Regions from separate parts of the Homo sapiens genome. Here region 2 is linked to region 1. The links come from fine-mapping of genetic effects on gene expression. Tissue or cell type: testis. Region 1 holds a variant in brackets; the other region holds the start of a gene. All regions are shown on one strand. Distances are from middle to middle.

Region 1 (11,703 bases):
ATATTTGTATCCCATGTGAGTGCTCACCAATGGGTGACCTCAGCAGAGGAGGATTTTAATAATCAAGTGGATAGGATGACCACTTCTGTGGACACCATTCAGCCTCTTTCCCAAGCACCTCTGTCATTGCCCAATGGACCCGTGAACAAAGTGGCCATGGTGGCAGGGATGGAGGTTATGAATGGGCTCAGCAATATGAGCTTCCACTCACCAAGGCTGATCTGGCTATGGCCACTGCTGAGTGCCCAATTTGCCAGCAGCAGAGACCAACACTGATTCCTCGATATGGCACCATTTCTCAGGGTGGTCAGCCAGCTACCTGGTGGCAGGTTGATTATATTGAACCTCTTCCATCATGGAAAGGGCAGAGATTTGTCCTCACTGGAATAGATACTTATTCTGGATATCGGTTTGCCTATCCTGCACACGATACTTCTACCAAGACTACCATCTGTGGACTCATGGAATGCCTTATCCACCATCATGGTGTTCCACACAGTATTGCCTCTGACCAAGGTACTCACTTTACGGCCATAGAAGTGCAGCAGTGGGCTCATGTTCGTGGAATTCACTGGTCTTACCACGTTGCCCATCATCCTGAAGCAGCTGGATTGATAGAACGGTGGAATGGCCTTTCAAAGTCACAATTGCTGTGGGTGGCAAGCCACCCAGGTGCCAAGGCAAGAGACCGAGGACACGAGCTGTTCCAGTATAATAAAATATAAAATAAGAATAGTTATACCAGAGATAGATCTTAGATATGATTATATATGAATATCATTAATCATTAGTAGCAATTACTCTTTATTCCAATATTATAATAATCCTCACTCTATAATCATAAACTAGGAAAAACCAGGCCATACAGAGATAGGAGCTGAAGGGACATAGTGAGAAGTGACCAGAAGACAAGAGTGTGAGCCTTCTGTTATGCCCAGACAGGGCCACCAGAGGGCTCCTTGGTCTAGCGGTAACGCCAGCATCTGGGAAGATGCCCATTGCCAAGCAGACCGTGGTCTAGCAGTAGCGTTAGTGTCAAGGAAAAACACCCGCTACTTAGCAGACCGGGAAAGAGAGTCTCCCTTTCCCCAGGGGAGTTTAGAGAAGACTCTACTCCTCCACCTCTTGTGGAAGGCCTGACATTAGTCAGGCCCACCCACAGTTATTCGGAGGCCTAACCGTCTCCCTGTGATGCTGTGCTTCAGTGGTCACACTCCTAGTCTGCCTTCATGTTCCATCTTGTACACCTGGTTCTGCCGTTTAGTTAGCAGTAGCAAATTAGTGAAAGTACTAAAAGTCTCTGATAAGCAGAAATAATGGTGTAAGCTGTTTCTCTTTCTCCTCTCTCTCTCTGCCTCGGCTGCCAGGCAGGAAAGGGCCCCCTGTCCAGGGGACATGTGATCCATGTGGCCTTCCCTATCATTGGAGATGGCCCACACTCCTTATCCTGCCCCTTTGTCTTGTATCCAATAAATATCAGTGCAGCCTGGCATTCGGGGCCACTACCAGTCTCCGCATCTTGGTGGTAGTGGTCCCCCGGGCCCAGCTGTCTTTTCTTTTATCTCTTTGTCTTGTGTTTTTATTTCTACGCTCTCTCGTCTCCACACAGAAGGAGAAAATGCACCAACCCTGTGGGGCTGGACCCTACAATTACCATGTCAATTAGATGACAATACTTTGCAGGGCTGGGGCAAAGTACTCTAGAAGGCTGTGTATGCACTGGATCAGCATCTGATATATGGTACTGTTTCTCCCATAGCCAGGATTCACGGGTCCAGGAATCAAGGGGTGGAAGTGGAAGTGGCACCACTCACCATCACCCCTAATGATCCAGTAGCAAAATTTTTGCTTCCTGTTCCTGCAACATTACGTTCTGCTAGCCTAGAGATCTTAGTTCCAGAGGGAGTAACACTGCCACCAGGAGACACAACAACAATTCCATTAAACTGAAAGTTAAGATTGTCACCTGGACACTTCGGGCTCCTCCTACCTTTAAGTAAACAGGCTAAGAAGGGAGTTACAGTGTTGGCTAGGTTGATTGACCCAGACTATCAAGATGAAATCAGTCTACTACTCCATAACAGAGGTAAGGAGGAGCATGCATGGAATACAGGAGATCCATTAGGATGTCACTTAGTATTACCATGCCCTGTGATTAAGGTCAATGAGAAACTACAACAGCCCAATCCAGGGAGGACTACAAATGGTCCAGACCCTTCAGGAATGAAGGTTTAAGTCACTCCACCAGGAAAAAAACCTTGATCTGATGAGGTGCTTGCAGAAGGCAAAGGGAATACACAGTGGGTGATAGAAGAAGGTAGTCATCAATACCAGCTACGACCACATGACCAGCTGCAGAAATAAGGACTGTAAAAAGTATTAACCCTAGGTGAGTCTGTGTGGGTGTTGCCAAAGGAGATTTGAGTCAGTGGGCTGGGGAAGGCAGACCCACCCTTAATCAGGTGGACACCATCTAATGAGCTTCCAGCAAATATAAAGCAGGCAGAAAAACATGAAAAGGCAAGACTGGCTTAGCCTTCCAGCCTACATTTTTCTCCCATGCTGGATGCTTCCTGCCCTCAAACATCAGACTCCAAGTTCTTCAGTTTTGGGACTTGGACTGGCTCTCCTTGGTCCTCAGCTTGCAGACAGCCTATTGTGGGGACCTCGTGATCATGTTAGTTAATATTTAATAAACTCCCATTTACATATATACATATATATATACATATATAATATTTATCCTATTAGTTCTGTCCCTCTAGAGAACCCTGACTAATACAGATTTTGGTACCAGGAGTGGGCTGTTGTGTTGCTGAAAAGATACCCAAAAATGTGGAATTGACTTTGGAATTGGGTAACAGGCAGAGGTTGGAACAATTTGGAGGGCTCAGAAGAAGATAAGAAAATGTGGGAAAGTTTGGAACTTCCTAGAGACTTTGCCCAAAATGCTGATAGCAATATGGACAATAAAGTCCAGGCTGAGGTGATCTCAAATGGAAATTAGGAACTTGTTGGGAAGTGGAGCAAAGGTGACTCTTGTTATGTTTAACAAAGGGACTGGCAGCATTTTTCCCCTGCCCTACAGACCTGTGGAACTTTGAACCAGAGAGAGATGATTTAGGGTATCAGGTGGAAGAAATTTCTAAGCAGCAAACATTCAAGAGGTGATTCAGGTGCTGTTAAAGGCATCCCATTTTATAAGGAAAGCACAGCATAGAAGTTTGGAAAATTTGCAGCCTGACAATGCAATAGAAAAAGAAAATCCCATTTTCTGGGGAGAAATTTAAGCCAGCTGCAGAAATTTGCATAAGTAACGAGGAGCAGAATGTTAACTCACAAGACAATGGGGAAAAGACATGCCTCTCCAGGGCATGTCAGAGGTCTTCACAGCAGCCCTTCTCATCACAGGCCTGGAGGTGTACAAGATAAAAATGGCTTCCTGGGCTAGGCCCAGGGTCCCCATGCTGTGTACAGCCAAGGGACTTGGTGTCCTGTGTCCCAGCTGCCCCTAGCCATGACTAAAAGGGACCAAGGTAAAGCTCCAGCCATGGCTTCAGAGGGTGCAAGCCCTAAGCCTTAGCACCTTCCACATGGTGTTGAGCCTGTGGGTACACAGAAGTCAAGAATTGAGGTTTGGGCACCTCCGCCTAGATTTCAGAAGATGTATGGAAATGCCTGGATGCCCAGGCAAAAGTTTGTTGCAAGCGCAAGGCCTTCATAGAGAACCTCTGCCACAGCAGTGCAGAAGGGAAATGTGGGGTCAGAGCCCCCAAACAGAATCCCTAATGGGGTAACCACCTATTGGAGCTGTGAGAAGAGGGCCACCATCCTCCAGACCCCAGGATGATAGATCCACTGATAGCTTGCACTGTGTGCCTGGAAAAGCCACAGACACTCAACACCAGCCCATAAAAACAGCCGGGAGGGAGGCTGTATCCTGCAAAGCCAAGGGGCGGAGCTGCCCAAGACCATGGGAACCCACTTCTTGCATCAGTGTGACCTGGATGCGAGATGTGGAGTCAAAGGAAATAATTTTGGAACTTTAAGATTTAACTGCCCTGATGGATTTTGGACTTGCATGGGGCCTGTAGCCCCTTTGTTTTGGCCAATTCCTCCCATTTGGAATGGCTGTTTTTGCCCAATGCCTGTACCCACATTGTATCTAGGAAGTAACTAACTTGCTTTTGATTTTACAGGGTTGTAAGCAGAAGGGAGTTTTCTTGTCTCAGATGAGACATTGGACTGTGGACTTTTGAGTTAATGCTGAAATGAGTTAAGGCTTTGGGGGACTGTTGGGAAGGCATGATTGATTATGAAATGTGAGAACATGAGATTTGGGAGGGGCCAGGAGTGGAATGATATGGTTTGCCTGTGCCCCCACCCAAATCTCAACTTGAATTATATCTCCCAGAATTCCCATGTTTTGTGGGAGGGACCCAGTGGGAGGTAATTGAATCATAGGGGCTGGTCTTTCCTGTGCTATTCTCATGGTAGTGAAAAAGTCTCACAAGATCTGATGGGTTTATCACGGGTTTCTGCTTTTGCTCCCTCCTCATTCTCTCTTGCCACTGCCATGTAAGAAGTGCCTTTCGCCCTCCACCATGATTCTGAGACCTTCCCCAGCCACGTGGAACTGTAAGTCCAGTTAAACCTCTTTCTTTTGTAAATTGCCTAGTCTCAGGTATGTCTTTATCAGCAGCATGAAAATGGACTAATACACTTCCCCTCTTTGTCTTGCTCACTCACTCACTCACTTCCCCTCTTGCCTTGCCATGTGATCCCTGCACGCCAGCTCCACTTCACCCTCCACCATGCATGAAAACAGCCTGTGCCATCATCGGATGCAAATGCTGGCACCATGATTCCTGTACAGCCTGCAGAACCATGAGCCAAATAAACCTCTTTTCTTTACAAATTACCCAGCCCCAGCTATTCCTTTATAGCAACACTAAATGGACTAAGACAATTGAGATAGAAACTTTAAGCACCAGCCAGCAGATAGGGGTTTTAAGAGTTTTGTTTCCCATTGAACCTACCAAATGCCCTGAAAACAATGTCAAGTATTGCCTCATTACATCTGCCTCTGCTGCAAGTTGTGATGTCATAATAGAATCATCCAGAAATCCTTTCATTGTTTTTCTTATGGAAGACTTGTGGACCCAAGGTGGCATTTAATCATAACTCTCTTGTCTAACTTGGAAACAAGAATTTACTCTCCTTCTCTTTTTTGTTCTTTCTTTCTAAAAAAAAAAAAAAGTGGGGGGCAGTAAGCATGATGTCTGAAGAAATAAATACGCCCTGGAGATTTGGAGGTATTATGTATTACCTCCCACATTCTAGATGCCCACTCTTTCCCTGGGAAGAAACACAGAGACCCTGATAAGCCCCTGATTTAAGAATAACAGACTAATCTCCAAGAAGGAAAAACTGAAATGAGGTTTGTCAGGGCGTTTTGTGCCCTCACAGGGTGAGGATATGTAGTAATGTAGTTTCTTGGAAACTAATCTTTATGAGAAATATTTTCCTGAACTTCTTTAGCTTCATCAGTTTCCTTTCTTTTTATTAGTAAATATAGCTAAAACTTGCTTTTAAAACATATATGATATTCTCATAAAATTTTATCTTTCAACCTAATCTAAGCAGTTCTCTAGCTATACAAATTTAACTTTCTTTCTGTATATGCAGAGAGACATGGAATCATGATTGGAGCGATGTCCACCAGATGTCAAAATAGAGTTCTGGATTCTTGTTTTGTATCAACTTTAATGAGATATAATTTCCATATAATAAAATGTACATATTTGTGTATAATTTGATAAGTTCTCAAAAGCTTATACACCCATGTAAACACCTCCACATCATGATACAGAACGTTTCAATTACCCTAACAAGCTCTTCTCTGCCCTTTTGATACAAATCCTTCATCTCAGCCCCAAGCAATCACTATTCTCTCACTTTACATTAGTTCTCTTATTGTGCAGTTTTATATAAATGGAATTATACAATATGAACTTATTTTGTATCTATCTTCTTTTGCTAATCTAAACACTTTTCAGATTCATCCATGTTGGTGCATGGATGAATGCATGCTAAGTCCTATTCCATTATATAGATGTATCACATTCATATAATTATACTCCATTATATAGATTGCTAAATCCTATTCCATTATATAGATATATCACAATTGTTTTGTCCATCATCTATTGATGGATATTTGTCTTAATTTTAGCTTTAGATTAATTTGGATAAAGTTGGGGTAAGCATAAATACATAGGCCTTTGTGTTGATATATGTTTTTCAAGCTCTTATATAAATCCCTAGGAGTATACGTTCAACTTTCTAAAAAAAGCCATTTTTTCCCCAAAGTAGTTTTGCCATTTTACATTTCCACCAGAAATTTACGGTTGTTGCAGTTGTTCTACATTGTTTCCAACACTTGAAATTGTCAGTTTCTTTAATGTTAGTGGGTCTCTAATGGTATCCCATTTTGCTTATAATTTCTAGTTCCTTGATGACTAATGACGTTGAACATCTTTTCACATGCTGATTGGCTATGCATATAAGTTCTTTTATGTAGGGTCTGTTTGTATCAGTTAACCATTTTAAAAAACAATTAGGTTGATTGTCTCCCTATTATTGAATTTTTAGAATTATTTATATAATATGGAAATACAACTTTTGTCTAATATATATGTTATGAATATTTTCTCCAGGTTTGTGGTTTGCCTTTTCATTTTCTTATCTATGTCTTTCAAAAAGCAGAGGTTTCTAATTTTTATAAAGCCTACTTTGTAAATTATTTTCTTTGGTGGTTTGTGCTTTTTGTGTGTGTACTACCTACAAAATTTTTGTATACCCAAAAGTTGCATATTTTTTCTAGTAGCTTTTAGTTTAGCTTTACTGTTTTGGTATATGATCTGTTTAATGTTCATATATGGTTTGAGGGAGGGATTATGGTTCATTCTTTTCTATATACATAACCAGTTATTTCTTTTCTATATATAAGTAACCAGTTGTTTCAACACCATTTTTGAAAAGATTATCTTTTGGCTGGGCATGGAGGCTCATGCCTGTAAACCCAGCACTTTGGGA[G/C]GCCGAGGTGGGCAGATCACGTGAGGTCAGGAGTTCAAGACCAGCATGGCCAACATGTGAAACCCTGTCTCTACTAAAAATACAAAAATTAGCTGGGCATGGTGATACATACCTGTAATCCTAGCTACTCTGGAGGCTGAGGCATAAGAATTGCTTGAACCTGGGAGACAGAGGTTGCCGTGAGCCGAGATCACACCACTGTACTTCAGCCTAGGTGACAGAGCAAGACTCCATTAAAAAAAAAAAAAAAGACTATCTTTTCCCTGATTAGATTAAACTGTATTGATCCTTCGTTAAAGATCAATTGACCATTTAGGTATAGGTTTATTCATTTCTGAATATTTATCCTTACATATTTATCCTTATATCAATAGCAGACTGTCTTTAAATAATAGCTTTAAAGTAAATGTTCAAATCAAGTCATTTTATTTCCCTAATTATGTTCTTTCTTGTTCTTCAAAATTGTGTAAAATACTATATGACATTTGAATAACCATATAAAATTTAAAATCAAATGTCAATTTCTAGGTACTAGTTCAATTTTGGAAGAACTGAAATATTATCAATATTGACTCTGCAATCATAGCGTGTATCTCCACTTATTTTTATCTCCCTTGAGTTTTAGCAACAATGCTGTGATCATAGTACTTAAGTCTTAAACACATTTTGCTAAATTTATCCTTATTTCATGCCTTTGATGCAATTGCAAATGGTGTTTATTTGATTGCAATTTCCAATCCTTGTTATTAGTACATAAAACACTATTTATTTTTGTATGTTTTACTTTATATGACCTTGATAAACTCACTTATTAATTCAAGTAGCACTTTTAACATACATGTGATTATGTTACATTACATGGCATAGTTAACCTTAAGACAGTGAGATTTTCCTGGTAAGCCTGACCTAAGCACACAAGCTCTTCAAAAAAGAGAGGTTTTTTTTCTAGTTTCAAAAGGCAATGTAGAATAGAAGCAAACTGGTTTCACTCTCTCCCACAGAAAACCAAAAACAAAGATTATCACCAGAAATATCCCAGAACTCAAATAAAAAGATGAGACCACTTCCAGGCCCACAGAGAAGTGAAAACACTCTGAGTAGTTGGTAAGAGAACTAGACACCCACATTTGCAATGCCCCCTCCCCCATTCTGCCTGGCACCACATGTGTTGAAAAATTTCCCCAACTCATTGTTTCTACACTGAGAAAAGCAAAATGGAGGAGACAAACAGCTTCCCCACCATTTTGGGTTCCCTGGCAGGAGAACCGTCCCTACCTTAGCCCATGGGAAGCATCAAGAAGTATCCCTGAAGACAGGCAGAGACAAAGTGGGGAGGTGGGACTACCACCTCCAGCCCTGGAAACTCTGCTCTGAAACTCAGCCACAGAAGATGCAAATTACAGTGGATGTTCAGCAGCACCATGCTGTAGGAGTTTCATCCCACAGGTCCCCTGGGTACAAACCCCTAGCCAGCCTTCCCACACTACTGGGATATCCCTTTGGGACTTCCCCACCTCTAACTCGAGAAGAGCAGTGCTCTAACCATTTACTAGAGCCAAGGGGAGCTTGTTTTTAAGGTACCACCTAGAGCCATAAAGGAGGCCTGCCTATGTGACCTAGCATTAGAGAGCCTCTAAGCTTGGGAATAAGATAGCTGACTAGAGATGCCTGGTATTCATCTCCTCCCCACCCGCCACCCCAGACAAGAAGGAACCAAAGCAAAAAATAAACAGCTCAGTGTTGACTGGAGTGTTGAAGGAAGAGTGCTGGTATGCAAAAGAGGAGTGGAAATGCACCTGTGGTGATTAGAAGTCCAGGAGGGCAGTGTGGAAGCACTTGGCCTCTGAAACCCCTTGTCCCTCATCAAGATCAGAACTGCCTAATGTCAGGAGTCACTTATTGCAGATAAACAAAAGATCCCCACCATCCCTGATTGCCACTGCAAACACCTAAAGTCCTTACAACAGGAGAATCCCACCGTCACCCAGTTTGGAGAGCTGCAGGGCATTCACACAGCTTCATTGCCCTAGATTAGGAGCACAATATGTGCACTCCCCATCCCCCAACTATCCCCTGTAAGCCAGTCTGCTGCAGCAGGGCACCATCTTGAGACCAGAGTCATGTCTGGAGTGCACCCTATTCTGGAGGCCAGTATCCACTGCACCTTTCCAGCACTGGAGCTCTGTCTTTGTTCCACCAAGCCCACACTGGTGGCCGAGCACCACAATGCTGGCAGCATGAAGCCTGGGCCCAGGATTGGCTGTGACCCTGGAGAGCAGAAAAACCAACTCCTACCACCCTCACTTCCAGACAGAGGAAAAGTCTGGCAGTCCCACCCAGGGCAAAACTGCCCTTGAGCCAGCCACACTGCTGCATGCCCTCCTCCAAGTCGGAGAGGCCCTCAAGCCTCTGAGTAGCTGACACACTTCCAGGCCAGTGGAGTGGCTATGTGCCTATATTCAGGGTCTGAGTAACAGTTTTGAGGTGCCCTATTCCCTGCAGACAAGGCCCTGACTTGTCCAATGGCCCTGTGTCCACAATCAGTGGCTGAGAAACTGCTCTAGGGGCTGCCATTTGCAAAACACCCCCAGAATAACCAAGCAGTTGTGTGCCCTGGGACTGAAAAGCAGCTCAGCTGGCCAACCCTGGTGGGCAAATCCCCAGTCCAGCTGAGCAGATGTACACCCACATCCCAGGTCCAAGAAACAGCCTGGTGGCCCACCCCCAGCAGACACACACTCAGGCCAGCTGAGCAGTCATGCAGCTGTGTCCTGGGTCTGAGAAATAGTCCCATGGGCTGCCTGCAGCAGACACACCCCCAGGCCAGTCAAGCAGCCCTGTGCCTGCATACCAGGCCTGAGAAACAGCCCTGTCAGCCACCCATGGTGAGCATGCCCATAAGCTGGCCAAATATCTATGCTCATGCTCCTGGCCAGAGTAACAGCCCAGTGGCCCCAACCCCAGGGAGCCAGACCTCAAGTTGACCAGCCCATTGTGCATATGCACACACATCCCAACCTGAGAAACAGCCTGGTAAGCCTGACCTAAGTACACAAGCTCTTTAAAAAGGAGAGGGAAAGCTGCACCGCCAGTGCCACAGACTCTCTCAGACTAGGCCACTGAGAAACTTGAAACACCACTAATGTAGATTACAGCTGAAAAGACTACACAGAGACTACATTACTGCATCCATCTAGAGCCCAGGGCAATGCACCCCACTGAACTGATGCCCTGAGGCCCATTCACATGAATGAGTCTTTTGCTTCAAAACTTACTCCATACAAGCAAAAGAGGTGATTTTTTTTCCCACCAGATGTATAGAAATCAACATAGAGACACCTCAACACATTAACCTTGAAAACGCAAAGAAACATGTCACCTCCAAAGAAAAATAATAATTCTCCTATGACAGATCTCAATCATAAGGAAATATATAAAATGCCAGAAAAAGAATTCAAAATAATAATCTTAAGGAAACTCAGTGAGTTACAAGAGAATACAGATACAACATTCAATGAAATTAGAAAATAATTTATGATTTGAATAAGAAATTTAACTAAATGGTAGATATCATTAAAAAGAGCCAAATGGAAATCCTCAGCTGATGAATTCAATGAATGAAATTAAAATATACAATCAAGCACTTCAACAACAGATTAAACAAAGGAGAAGAAAGAACTTCTGTACTTGAAGATAGGTCTTTTGAAATAATACAGGCAGACAAAAAATAATTTAAAGGAATAAAGAAAGCCTGCAGGATTTATGGGACACCATTAAGCAAACAAATATTCTGGGCATTCCAGGAGGAGAAAAGAAGGGAAATGGAAAACACATTTAATGAAATAACAGCAGAAAAATCCCAAATCTTGGGAGAGGGATGAATGTCCAAGCCCAGGAAGCTCCAAGAACCCCAAATAGATTCAACCCAAACAGGTCCTCTCCAAGGCACATTATAGTCAAACTGTCAAAAGTCAAACATAAAGAATTTTTAAAGTAGCAGGAGAAAAGCATCAATTCAGATATAAGGGAATCCCAGTTTGATTAACAGCAGATTTCTCAGCAGAAACCTTACAGGTCAGAAGAGAATGAGATGATATATTCAAAGTACTGAAATAAATTTTTAAAAACCTGTCAACCAAGAATATTATATCCAGCAAATCTATCCTTCAAGAATGGAGGAGAAACAATTTTTCTTGAGAAGGAAAAATTGAGGGAATTCATCACCACTAAAGCAGTCTTACAGGAAATGCTCAAGGGAGCCTTACATTTGGAAGTGAAAAGACAATAACCCATCATGAAAACATGCAAAACTATAAAACTAACTGATATAACAAAGGGGAAAGATAAAGGAATCAAGCCTTATCACTACAGAAAACCACCCAACTGCAAAAATAAATAATAACAGATGAAGCAAGGACCAAAGAATATACAAAGCAACCAGAAAGCAATCAATAAAATAACAGGAGTAAGTTGCCACCTATCAGTAATAACTTTGAATGTAAATAGATTAAATTGCCCATTTAAAAGCTAGAGACTGGCTGAAGGACAAAAAAAAAAAAAGGCCCAACTATATGCGCTGCCTTACCTATAAAGACACACAAAGAC
Region 2 (11,703 bases), 33 kb before region 1:
CACTAAAATCTTGCAGGTCACACAAGTGACTGTGCAAAGCATCAGAGCTGGGAAAACCAAGAACTGTCCCTACTGCACCCTTCTGAGCTGTCAAGGCCTGGCCCTGCCCTGTCTCTCCTCCCAAGAGTTGCTTGATGGATCCTCCCGAGAGTATGAACACATTTGGAATCAACAAATTTAAAGCTAAACTTTTTATTCTTTAAAAATGTTCGCATATTCCCACGCTTATCTCAACTAACTGTAAACCTTTTTATTTTCTCCCAGATAGGAACCTTGAAATGATCCCTGTTCCCCTGCACACTCCCAGCCACACCCCCTTTACACCGCAGGGGCCCCTAGCCCCTCTCTCCCTCGCTCTCCGTCTTCCTCTTATCCATCATCACTTCCTCAATAAATACATTTTGGGTACTTCCTGCATATAAGACATCCTGCCAGCTCTGGGCATTCTGCGGTAAACAAGGGTCATGTCCTATGCAGCTTCATTAGCTGATTGACCACTGACCACTCCTGGGAGGCGCCTGCAGGGTGCTCAGAAAGTGCCTGGTGAAGCTGTGCTCGTGTGTTCCAGAAGCAAGGCTGTCCGGCCTGAGAGGGGCGGGAGGGCACATGAGATGAGGTGGGTGGGGCAGGGGTGCAGCTGGACTGAGGGTTTCATTTCATCCTGAAAGGTGGGGAGGAAGGACTGAGGAGACAGGTGGGACAGAGGGGCAGACGTGGTCATGTTGAGTGGAGGACATCCCGAGATGACCCATTTAGACAGAGTTCAACAGGTTAAAAATCTAGGTTGGGAACCAAACTTTCTCCGTTTTATGAACTTTTTCTGAAAGGATGTCTGCAGTTCCCTTGACACATTATCACACAGCCTGTGCTCAGTATTGTGCTAATAAGGAATATTTCCATCATTGTCCCTTAAGGGCCAGGTGCAGCCCATGCCCAGGGCTCTGCTAATTTTCCGCCAGTCTGCGCCCTGCGGGTCATATGAAAATGAAACTTTAGACCCTCCAGGCAGAGGCAGCAAAGTCCCCTTGAGCCCCATCTGTGTTGATGTGAATTCCGCTCCCCTCCCTGCTGCCTCCGACTGTGCCTTGGACCCGTGGGTGGCAGATAAGGGCTCCCCGGAACCAGAACTGAGCTCCTCAACCACAGAACCCCAGAGCCTCCTCCAGTAATGCTTCTCCTGCGTTAACGACAAGGACTGAGATGGTTAATTTTGTTTTTGGCAACCCCAGAGAAGTAAAACCCACAATGCAGAAGAAGGAAAACCAAATGCCACTAATTGTGATACAACCACCCCGTTGCCCGCTTCCGGAGACAAGGTTCTGGACGCGGTCCTGGCGCGGGAACCTGAGCTGGAGCCGGCGACCCCCGCCCGCCACCAGCCCGCGCCCCGCAGAGCGCACGCTCAAGAGCGCGAACACCCAGCGTCTGCTCTGTGCTGACGGCGTTCTTTATCAGCTCATTTAATTTTTAGATTTGTTGGCCCATTCGACGTTCACAATGTTCAGAAATGTACGCTGGACAAATAAATAGGGCAAGAGCACGAGCTCACCGATTTAAAAATTCCACACAGCATTGCAAAGGTTTTCTGGAGCCTCGTCATCAAAGTTGACCCAGGAAGAAGTAGAGGCTTCCATGTGGGACACTGTTATTTCTAATCTACTTTGAAACCGCAGGGCAGGCAGGGAGGGAGGAAGGAGAAAGAAGCAGCAGGCCAGGTCTGCAGGCAGGAAGAGGAGAGCCGGCCGGCAGCCGCCGCCTCGCTGAGGTCTGAAGCCAGGAGGCTGGGAGAATGCGCAGATAAAGACGAGCCAGACCTCCAGACCGCAACCCTCCTCTCCCTAGAGAGGGAACAGGCCGCTTTCTGCTTATGCTGAACTCGGGGCTCTGGAGACAGGAAGCGTGGAGGAGACAGCAGAGGTGAGGCTGGGAGATAGGATTTCAGTGGGTCTCTTCCCCCTTCCCGGTCTCAGGACATCCACCCCAGCGGGACATCAGAGACTCCCTCTCTGGAGGTCACCAGCTGCAGCTGAGCAAAGCCCTGAAGCGAGCAGTGTCCGCAGCTTCCGACGCCTCAGCGTGGGTGAGGGGACCTCGGTGGACGAAGCCACCTGTACCCCGGCGGTTGAACAGGAGGGGAAAGCGCTCCCGGGAGGAGCCTGCGGGCCCAGAGGCGGAACGGTGGGGGTGGGGGCGGCGACTCCTGCTCAGAAGCAGCCCCGCCCATCCCCATAAACTCTCCCGCACAGTCGCCGAGAGGCCGGATTCCTGGGCGACTCAGTGCGCCTCGCTCCGCAGGCAACGCGCGGGGGCCATCGCCCTAATCCTGATCTCATCCTTCGGATGCTGTTACTATAATATTACTGTTAGTTTATTATTTGGCCATCGCCGACGTGGCTAGCGCCCGTAACTGTCCCGGGGCGTGTTATGCACCCCCCGCTCCGTGCCAGGGACGCGGACTCACCCCTGTCCCTGTGCGCATGGAACGCGGGGAGGTCGCCTCTGCCCGAGAACTCGTCCTTGTAGTCCAGCAGCGCTTCCTTCACCGCCTTGTAGCCGTGCATCACCACCATGCGCTGCGAGCCCACGTACAGCGTGAACACCGGCCCGAAGCGCTGGGCCAACTGCGGAGACCCGTGGCTAGAAGTCAGGCCCGCCGCGCGGCGAGGAGGTGCGGGGCTCTAAGCCACACCCCTGCCGGGCGGGTATTGCTGTTGCTCTAGAGAACCCAGAGGGACGTGGGGAAAAGCTGTCTTTGTCCAGCCCGAGGTGGGGGAGACCCTCCCCTCAAGAGGCTGCTGCGTCTGCAGGGCGCTCGGGGGGTTCCAGCTGCTCTGCTCCCCACCCGCCTGGACTCCGCGGACAACTCCGCGGCAACTCCGCGGACTCCGGCTCCTCACGTCCCTTCCCTCAGGCGCGCCCACCAACCACCCCGTTGCCCGCTTCCGGAATCAAGGTTCTGGACCCGGTTCTGGCGCGGGAGCCCGAGCTGGAGCAGGCGACCCCCGCCCGCCGTCAGCCTGCGCCCCACAGAGCGCACGCGCAAGAGCGCAAACACCCAGCGCCTGCTCCGTGCTGACGGCGTTATCAGTTCATTTAACGTTTAGGTTTGTTGGCCCATTCAGTGTTCACAACAGTCGTAGGCGGCAGGTATTGGTGCCACACGGGCTGGCCCAACACTTCACGTTTCAACTCGTGCTTTGGCAAACACAGGCGGACGCCCAGCGAGTGCGCATCTGGCCGCCAGCCCGGTTATCCTGGCGTCGCAGCAGCCCGGCCTCGCCGGCCTCCCCATCATCAGCCCCAGGACAAGGCACCGGCGGGGGCCTCCGGGGCCTGGCACGCAGGCTCCGGGCTCCAGCTGCACCACAGGCGACACATTTTGAGTGTCGCTCCAGGATGCTATCAATTCAGGTAATTCACAACAGGCTGGTATTGAACAACCACAATTTGTCTGCAAATGAGTTGAATACACACATACCAGATCCAATTGCTGAGTTATTCTCCCTAAAATCAACACTATTTCTCTTACCCGGGTGAAGGACTTGGGAATATTCTTCAATTCCAACTGGAAGAGGTTCCCGATGATGGGAAGCGGGAAAGGGCCTGGGGGCAGATTCCAGCTGCTGTGCACCTGCCTCCACATGGACACCAGCAGGAGGAAGGCCGCCCACACCAGCAGGGCCACGGTGACTCCGAGGGCAGACATGGTGCCGCTGGGGCCCTGCTGCCAGCCCGGGAGACAATCCTGTGGAAACGGAAGGTTTTTATAATGTGTTCTGAGAAGGAGGGTGACCCACCAACCAATGCCCTCTTGCTACTCGTCTATCCCAAATTACTGGTTTATTATTAGCTGCTGTTGGCCATCGTTTCAAAGGCTGATTCCCGCAATGGTGGCCCCCAGGGGTTCCAGCCAGTGACCTGGTGAGGATGGAGTTGGACTGTGTCAACACCCTGGTTGCTAGCACCTGTCACTGTGCCAGCAAACACATCCAGGAACATGTTGCCAACCCATAGTTAAGAACGTGGGGTGAGGTACCGTCCTGCCCTTTGGCACTGGTTAGACAACGGGGAACTCCAGCCACATCCCCATGCATTTGTTTGGAGTAGGGTTTATGTAATACAACTCCAACCCCATGCCGACCACCTCTAGACACGGTACCGGCCCTCCTGGTGCAACAGCCTCTTGATGTCTGATGAGGAGGTTTGTCTGAGCAGCCCCCAGTAGTACCTGAATCACCACCTGCCACATGAATGGGGCCAGAAGGAAAATTCAACATCGGAATTCGATTCCACTTTCTCAAGTTAACTGGAAAATTCCATGGAAGAAAAATAAAAGGAAAGAGTGAGTCAACCAATTCTGAGAAAGTTAATCTCTGTTTTCATTTTTTTTAAAGGTATATATTCTGGCTGTAGAAAATTAAGAAAAATTGTTCTTTGGAATTATTCCAAATTTAAATTCTTAAAAAATTACATTAGAGTTTTATTGGATTTGTTTTACATTAGGGTAAATTTAGAAGACGATTTTAAAGATATCTTGTCTTTGTTGATCCCGGGACACAATAGAGCTCCACATTGACTAGCTTCTTCTTTCATGTATTAATTATTTTCTTCATACAGACCCTCTTCCACCTTCTATGAAGGTAGTCCATAGGTATTTTGTGGAGCTTTTTTGTGTGTGTGGTTAGAATGAAGAGAATGTTTTTCATTCTGTCTTCTAACTGGCAATATATAGAAGTTCTTAATTCATAGGTTGCAATTTTGTACTTTTATATTAACAATGAATCTTTATGTATAATAGAAAATATGATGAGAAATGAAGAAAATAAAAGTCATTTACAATCCAGCCAAATCACTTGTGGATTTTGAGTTATGCCATTCTATACTTGTATTTATACAAAAATGAGACTACATACTATATATTGCATTCTAACCCAGTTTTTCTCTTGACAATTTATTAGCCACATAAGCAAGTCATTGGTTGTGCTGCACCTAACACTGCACCTCTCCTGAACCAAGAAGGGGCGTTGGCCTCTGGCAGAGGCTTCAGGGGCCTTTGCTTCCCTCTGGTTTTTGGCACCCCTCGAGGTGAGAACTGACAATGTAGACTCGACTGGCTCACGGGTGGGTTAGCCTGCCGCCTCCTCCTCTCTTTCCTTTCCAGTGGCCAGTGTGAGGTGGCAGGGACAATTCCCTGGGCAGAAACAGCTGTCCAGACCCCTGAACCCTGTTGTCCTGTGTGGGCCCAGCCAGGCCTGGCCGGGACAGACACCCATTGGGGTCCACAAGTTTCCTCGATTACTGGTTCCTTCTTCTAGTGCTTGAGAGCAGCAGAGTCAGCTCCCCACAGACTGAAATTGAAGCCTTGGCTTTGGTGGGGTGAGAACAGGAAGCATCAGGGTGGAGAGGCAGAGCAGGCCTCTGGCTCCCCTGGGCTGAGGACACCTTGTCTGTGCAGCTCACCTGAGTGTGCACATCCCAGGCGGGACCCGCGTGCCCTGGAGAGTCTGTGCCTCACAGGGATGCAGCTGTGGTCTGAGTCCTCTGGCCATAATACTGTTAGATGCCCAACCAACATCAAATTTTATATACGGGAACACCTCGTTTGAAAATAATGACATTTCTGTGTGCTTCTTTTCAGAAGCCGGGGCTTTTATTTGTTTTGCATCTGTCCCATTGGCAGGACACTCTAGGACAAGGTGAAATAATCAGGATGACAGAGTGCCTGTGCCTCTGCCCGTGACAAGGTGAAATAATCAGGACGACAGAGTGCCTGTGCCTGTGACAAGGTGAAATAATCAGGACGACAGGGTGCCTGTGCCTGTGACAAGGTGAAATAATCAGGACGACAGGGTGCCTGTGCCTCTGTCCGTGACAAGGTGAAATAATCAGGACGACAGGGTGCCTGTGCCTCTGCCCGTGACAAGGTGAAATAATCAGGACGACAGGGTGCCTGTGCCTCTGCCTGTGCCCGTGGCAGGGTGTTCTTCAGGCTTCCATCACGTCTGCTGTTGGCTGGGTGTGGCAAAGAGGTGACTGTATTGGGACAATTTTCTTCTTTCTCTAGATAACTAACAGTGTTTATCAGGGATGAGAGTTGGGTTAATGAAATCTTTTTTTGATTGAGACAATCCTGTGATTTTTCTCCATAGACCTGCTAGTATGATGCTAGAAGAAAACACTGTCTCACAATGTACCATAAAATTACCATAAATTTTTATATTGTATCATAAAAGTACCTCATAGTTCCACATCACAACCAACTCGTTCATGGAGTGATACTCTTTTAACACCCTAAGGATTCAACTTGTTAATAGTATTTTTAGTAATTTTGCATCTATACCCACAAATAAAATCGGGCTATAATTTTTGTGTTATATTAGGTTCTTGCATAAAAATTGCACTATTCTAGAAATCATTGCAAAACCCCTGTCTTCTCTGTGACTGGGGATACTTTATACTGTAGGGGAATTTTCTGTGCTTCAAAATTTTAATAGAACTCACTAGTAAAGCAATATAGAGAAGATTTACTGGAATTAAATAATTGTTTATAAAGATTAGAAAGATAATTTTAATTGGGGAAGTAAAATATCTCCTTTTAACGAATGCAAACAACACAAAAGTGGGTGAAGTGGAAACTGCGAGTCCCAAATTCACCCTACAAAGGCAGCTTCCATATTTTAAACCCCATTGAGAAGGAAAGATTCTGCTAATTCTCTTTTTATTATTTGCAGTTTTAATTTTGTACCTACTAAAATACTTTTTGGCACTTACTTTAATTCTGTGTATAATGTGCATTTGAGTTACTAGTGTTCTTTGACTTTGACCCAAGAGACTTCCTTTAGTATTTCTTATGACAGGCTTGTGAATTCTCTCGGTGTTGTTTATCCAAGAATGTCTTAATTTCTCTTTCTTTTTGACATTTGATCTTAGCCAAAAGGCTGACATATTTTAAATTTTAATTAATAAATTAATGGGGGAGGGTACCAGAAAACCTGCTAGACAAATTCTAAAGAGCTGTAATACTTCTCTCTTTTTGGAAGAATGTTTTCTGGATATAGAATTCTTGGTTAGCAGTGTTTTTCTTCAGTGCCCTGACTGTGTCATCTCACTGCCTGCTGGTCCCATGGCTTCTGGTCAACAAGTGCTGTTATTTTATCAAGGGCTGATTTACCTGACGACTCATTTGGTTTCGGCGGAACAGGTTCCTGCTATTTTATCCAGGGCTGATTTACCTGATGACTCATTTCGGTTTCGGGTGAACAGGCGCTGCTATTTTATCAAGGTCTGATTTACCTGACAACTCATTTTGGTTTTGGGTGAACAGGTTCCTGCTGTTTTATCAAGGGCTGATTTACCTGACGACTCATTTCAGTTTTGGGTGAACAGGTTCCTGCTATTTTATCGAGGGCTGATTTACCTGACGACTCATCTCACTCTTGCTGCTTCCAGGACTCCCAGTTTCCCTTTGATTGTTTGACTACAGTGTGTGCAGGTATGGCTCTCCTTTCATTTATTCTATTTTGAGAATAAATGAATAAATGACAATAAATGAATATTCATTTATTAAGCTTTTGGATATGTAGATGGATCTTTTTCATCAAATTTGGGGAATTTACACCCATTATTTCTTCAAATAGTATTTTTGTCCCCTTATTTTCTCTCTTTCTGTGATTCCCATTGTACCTGTTAGATACCCTTGATGATGTCCCAAAGGTCTCTGAGGCTCCATTCATTTTTCAACACTTTAGCTGGTGTTCACATTGCAGTTCTGGAGGAACAGATTTTCAGAGCTTCTTATCCTGCCATTCTAGAAGTGCTTCTCTTGTCTATCCTATTTATCAGGAAAATGAGAGCTTTCCAAGAAACTTCCAGAAAATCTGAGATTTTTTAAATTCTTGGTTAGAATGTCACCACTCCTCTGTGCAAGAGGGGCTGGAAAGTGGAAAGACCTTTTAAGTGAATGTGTCAAAATATTAAGGGAATTAGGAATGGGATTGATTACTAATCAATAGTGTGTACCATACTATGGTTGTAAGTATTCTGTGTATTCTTCCAAACTTCAAAAACAATTTATATAAACATACACACACATACTACATTTTGTATTTCACAATTTGTCTATTTTGAGTTGATGAACAATTCAAATGGTTTCCCCAACTATTTATGTTACAAAAGGTGCCACAATGGTGCCCTGTAGATGTATCTTTGTTCAGACATGCACCTATCTCTGTAAGTCAGTTTTGTGGGAGTGGGACGGTTAGGTCACTGGATATGTGGATTTACAATGTTAATAGGTATATAAAACTGCTTCCTCAAAAGGTTGAAACACTTAAAACCCCCCACAGTAGGATGGGAGAGCCAATTTCTACACATCTGCTCCAACACTAGATACTGCCAGTCACCGATAACTGAAAATTCATATGTCATTACTTTAATTTGCATTTCTCTGGTCAATAAAGAAGTAGAGCATCTTTTCATCTACTGATTATTTATTTGAATTTCTTTTTTAATGAAACAATTCCTTCCCTTTTCATATTGGGATTTTACATATTTCCTCTCAGATTTTAAGGACTCTTTGTCTATCAAATAAATAGTAGTTGTTTTCATGTTTGATGGTTTGGAAGTTCCTCCCAGTCTCTTGTTTGATTTCCCATGTAGAAAATTAGATTTTTATACAGTTAAACTTTTCAGACTTTTCCTTTATGGCCTTTGGAATTTAGACAATGTTTTCTAAAAGACCTTCCCCATCAATTATTTTTAATTTAAAAGTCACCATTATGGCCGAGCACGGTGGCTCACGCCTGTAATCCCAGCACTTTGGGATGCCAAGGCGGGCGGATCATGAGGTCAGGAGATCGAGACTATCCTGGCTAACACGGTGAAACCCCCTCTCTACTAAAAGTACAAAAAAGTGGCGGGCGCCTGTAGTCCCAGCTACTCGGGAGGCTGAGGCAGGAGAATGGCGTGAACCCGGGAGGCAGAGCTTGCAGTGAGCCAAGATCTCACCACTGCAGTACAGCCTGGGTGACAGAGCGAGACTCCCGTCTCAAAAAAAAAAAAAAGTCGCCTTTAGAAAAGATCTATGTGGTCTTGTCATTTCTAGGTAAGGTGCCTTGATTTCTCTGACTAGAATCGTGTTTTATTACATTATCTTTTATTTTAAAAATCTACTCAGATATGTTAATATGTATTAAAATTGGCAATTAATCTTCTAATTGTATCTTTTACTGTTATATAAACATCTTTTTGACTCCCCTGATAACTGTTGCTACATGTGTTTGCTTTTCGTAGTATTTCCCTGGTCTATCTCTGCTCATCATAATATTTAAAGTATCTTTATGTTATTTTTGTTCTTGATAGGTGTCCTGTAAACATTCTATAGCTTTGACATAAACGGAAAGTTTTTCCTTTTTATAGAATTAAACGGTCATATTTATCACGATTACTAAATTTGGCTGTTACGATGTGAATGTATGTGTGTGTGTATGCGTGTGTATGTGTGTGCATGTGTGTGTGTGCATGTGTGTATGTATGTATATGTATGTGTGTATGTGTGTTTCCTTTCCCTATGTTCGGATTGATCATTTTTTGTTTGTTCTTTTTGCTTGATGATTTGGACTCCTGTTGTTATTCTACCGGTGGTTACCCTTGAATCTGAAAACACATATAGACCTATAGTTTTTTTATTCACTTGAATAATTTGTCAATATCTTCTGATCTAAACAAGAAGGGACCTTAGCATACTGTTCTTCTCTACTTCTCTTGCAATATACACTCTACCCCAAATCTCAGGAATTTTAGTTTTAGAATATTAGTTTTAAATTTGTTCAAATATACTTCTGTTTTATAAATTAATTTTTATCTAAGGCATTCACATTTTCAGCCACCTATCGAGTGATTATTTGCCCTCAAATATATGCTGTACCAGTCCCTTCGCCTGTTTCTTCTATATCATATCTTGTCTTCCATGGATTCCTGCTCCTAGACACACAACATCTTCCACATAAAATCAGGACCCAATTTTATGTGGAGAGGGTGGGCTGCACGAGGAGGTACACTTGGAATGCCCACCTCCCTGGGCTACTTGACCTCCCTCCATAGCCAACTTCTCTTCAGTGGCAGATCACGTGGCAAAAACATGTTGTCAGACTGACAGCAAACTTGCCTCTCCTCCCTTCACACTCACAAGTAGAAAGCATAAAACATCTCAGAAGTGCTCTAGGAGGATAATCAGTAGCCATAAACCCTTGGACCACAGAGCTACGAGGCAGAAGAATATTACTCTTCTGGGCACCCAAAAGGCTCTGGATAAGAAGGGAGGAGAGTACGGATGGGGCTGAAAACATGCTCAGAATGGCTGATTTGAGGGCTTTCCCCTGGAAACTTCCTCTTGTTTTGTATTGTCAAAAGGTTGAGAACCTTAAAACAGACATTTGTGTGGGCAACTATCTGATGTTCGATGCCATACTTCACTGGAAATAACGACCTTGACAAAAGCCAAACATCTGTTCCAAGTAAAACAAAAGCAGAGAACACACAACCTCGCCGCGTCCAAAGGGCAAGCCACGCTGGTGCAGGAACGAAGCCTCCCGCCTCAGAGGGCGCGGGGCTCTGTGCTGTGTCCTGTCTCCTGTCAGCCGGCTCTGCCCGCACGCTGAGCTGCGGTTATGGCTCCGGGAGCAAACAACCCGGAAGTGGCAGCGCGGCTGGGCGGAGGGCGCCCTCCTGGTTCCGCTGGGGCTGCGGCTCCCTGAGGCCCCGAGGGGACCCCGCTCACCCGGGCCCCGCCCACCAGAGGGCGCCAGAGAGAAGCCACCGGGGAGGCGCCTGCGCTGTTTCCCTGAGCCTCCTGGTACCCCGTTTGAGACACAGGAAAAAACGCGTGAAAGGCTTCTGTAAATTATCAAGTGTGGTGACGTATGAACCCCAGGCAGCCCACTCCCAACCCCAAACAACATCTCATTCAAGCTGCGTCTACCAGAAGCTCGCACATCCAACTGCCTCCCTCCAGAGGTAGCCGCTGTCCCGAATTTTGCTTTGAATGTTCCCTGTGATTTTCTTTTTTATACTGTGTAATTGGATTTTTAAAGGGATTTCATAACATTTATATTCCCGGAGGCTTGAATTTTTTTGCTCATCGTTTTTCGTTACCACGTAGTGAGGTGTTGCTGCAGTTCCTCGACTTTGTGACTCCACAGATACGAATATGTGGCACTTTGTTTAACCACTGTCCTGTCCGATTATTCCCAAGGTTTTGCTACTGCAGACTAGGAACATTTTTGAACATGATTCCTGGAGCACTGTGTAAGAATATCTCTAGGCCAAGTGTATACCTGGGCAACCTAATATACATGGAACCAGATTGTTTTCCAAGTATTTGAACCATTTACCTGCGTCCAGTGGTGTCTAAGTGTTCCTGTTATTCCCAACAGTATGTACTAATAAATTTCTTAATATTTTCCGATTTAGTCAATATAAAATGATATTTAACTGTGGTCCCATTTTGCATTTCCCTGATTATAAAGTAGAGAAACTTTCTCTCCCTATCTCTGTCTTGTCAAAATTATACATACTTTTCTCTGAAATGCCTACTCAAGTATTTTATGTATTTTGCTCTCCTCTTCCCTTGGGGTTTTGGTCTCTCATTGTTTGCAGGAATGCTTTATTCTGATCCGTCCTCAGTTCTATGTGTTGCAATAATTT

Which allele goes with the higher level. Alleles are on the strand shown, and positions count from the first base shown. SD is a standard deviation of normalised expression in the study named.
For the expression in testis of the gene that starts at base 3,739 in region 2, C is the high allele of the variant in region 1 and G is the other (large effect, 1.3 SD a copy in GTEx).

What was found. PIP is the estimated chance that this variant, and not a neighbour inherited with it, causes the effect.
Region 2: it holds the start of CYP2E1, and the variant in region 1 is fine-mapped to the expression of CYP2E1 in testis (GTEx, PIP 0.92).

Annotation. Positions count from the first base shown.
Region 1 is chr10:133,486,827-133,498,529 of GRCh38, reverse strand. It overlaps LOC105378575 (a long non-coding RNA gene), which reads left to right. Exons shown (of 5, transcript XR_946512.3): 5 at 5,689-7,106. Among named protein-coding and RNA genes, the nearest start is that of CYP2E1, 35 kb to the left of the region's middle. RefSeq lists a silencer at 928-1,007 and an enhancer at 8,033-8,082. The variant G/C (reference allele first, on the strand shown) is at 7,099.
Region 2 is chr10:133,519,399-133,531,101 of GRCh38, reverse strand. It overlaps CYP2E1 (cytochrome P450 family 2 subfamily E member 1), which reads right to left and starts at 3,739. Exons shown (of 9, transcript NM_000773.4): 1 at 3,530-3,739; 2 at 2,462-2,621. The coding sequence starts at 3,706. LOC105378575 (a long non-coding RNA gene) reads left to right here and starts at 4,143. Exons shown (of 5, transcript XR_946512.3): 1 at 4,143-4,342; 2 at 4,959-11,431. It also overlaps the pseudogene LOC124902569. RefSeq lists cis regulatory regions at 4,036-4,060, 5,286-5,292, promoters at 3,732-4,285, 3,644-5,101, 3,732-7,451, enhancers at 4,286-4,413, 4,702-5,114, 7,122-7,442 and a silencer at 10,700-10,899.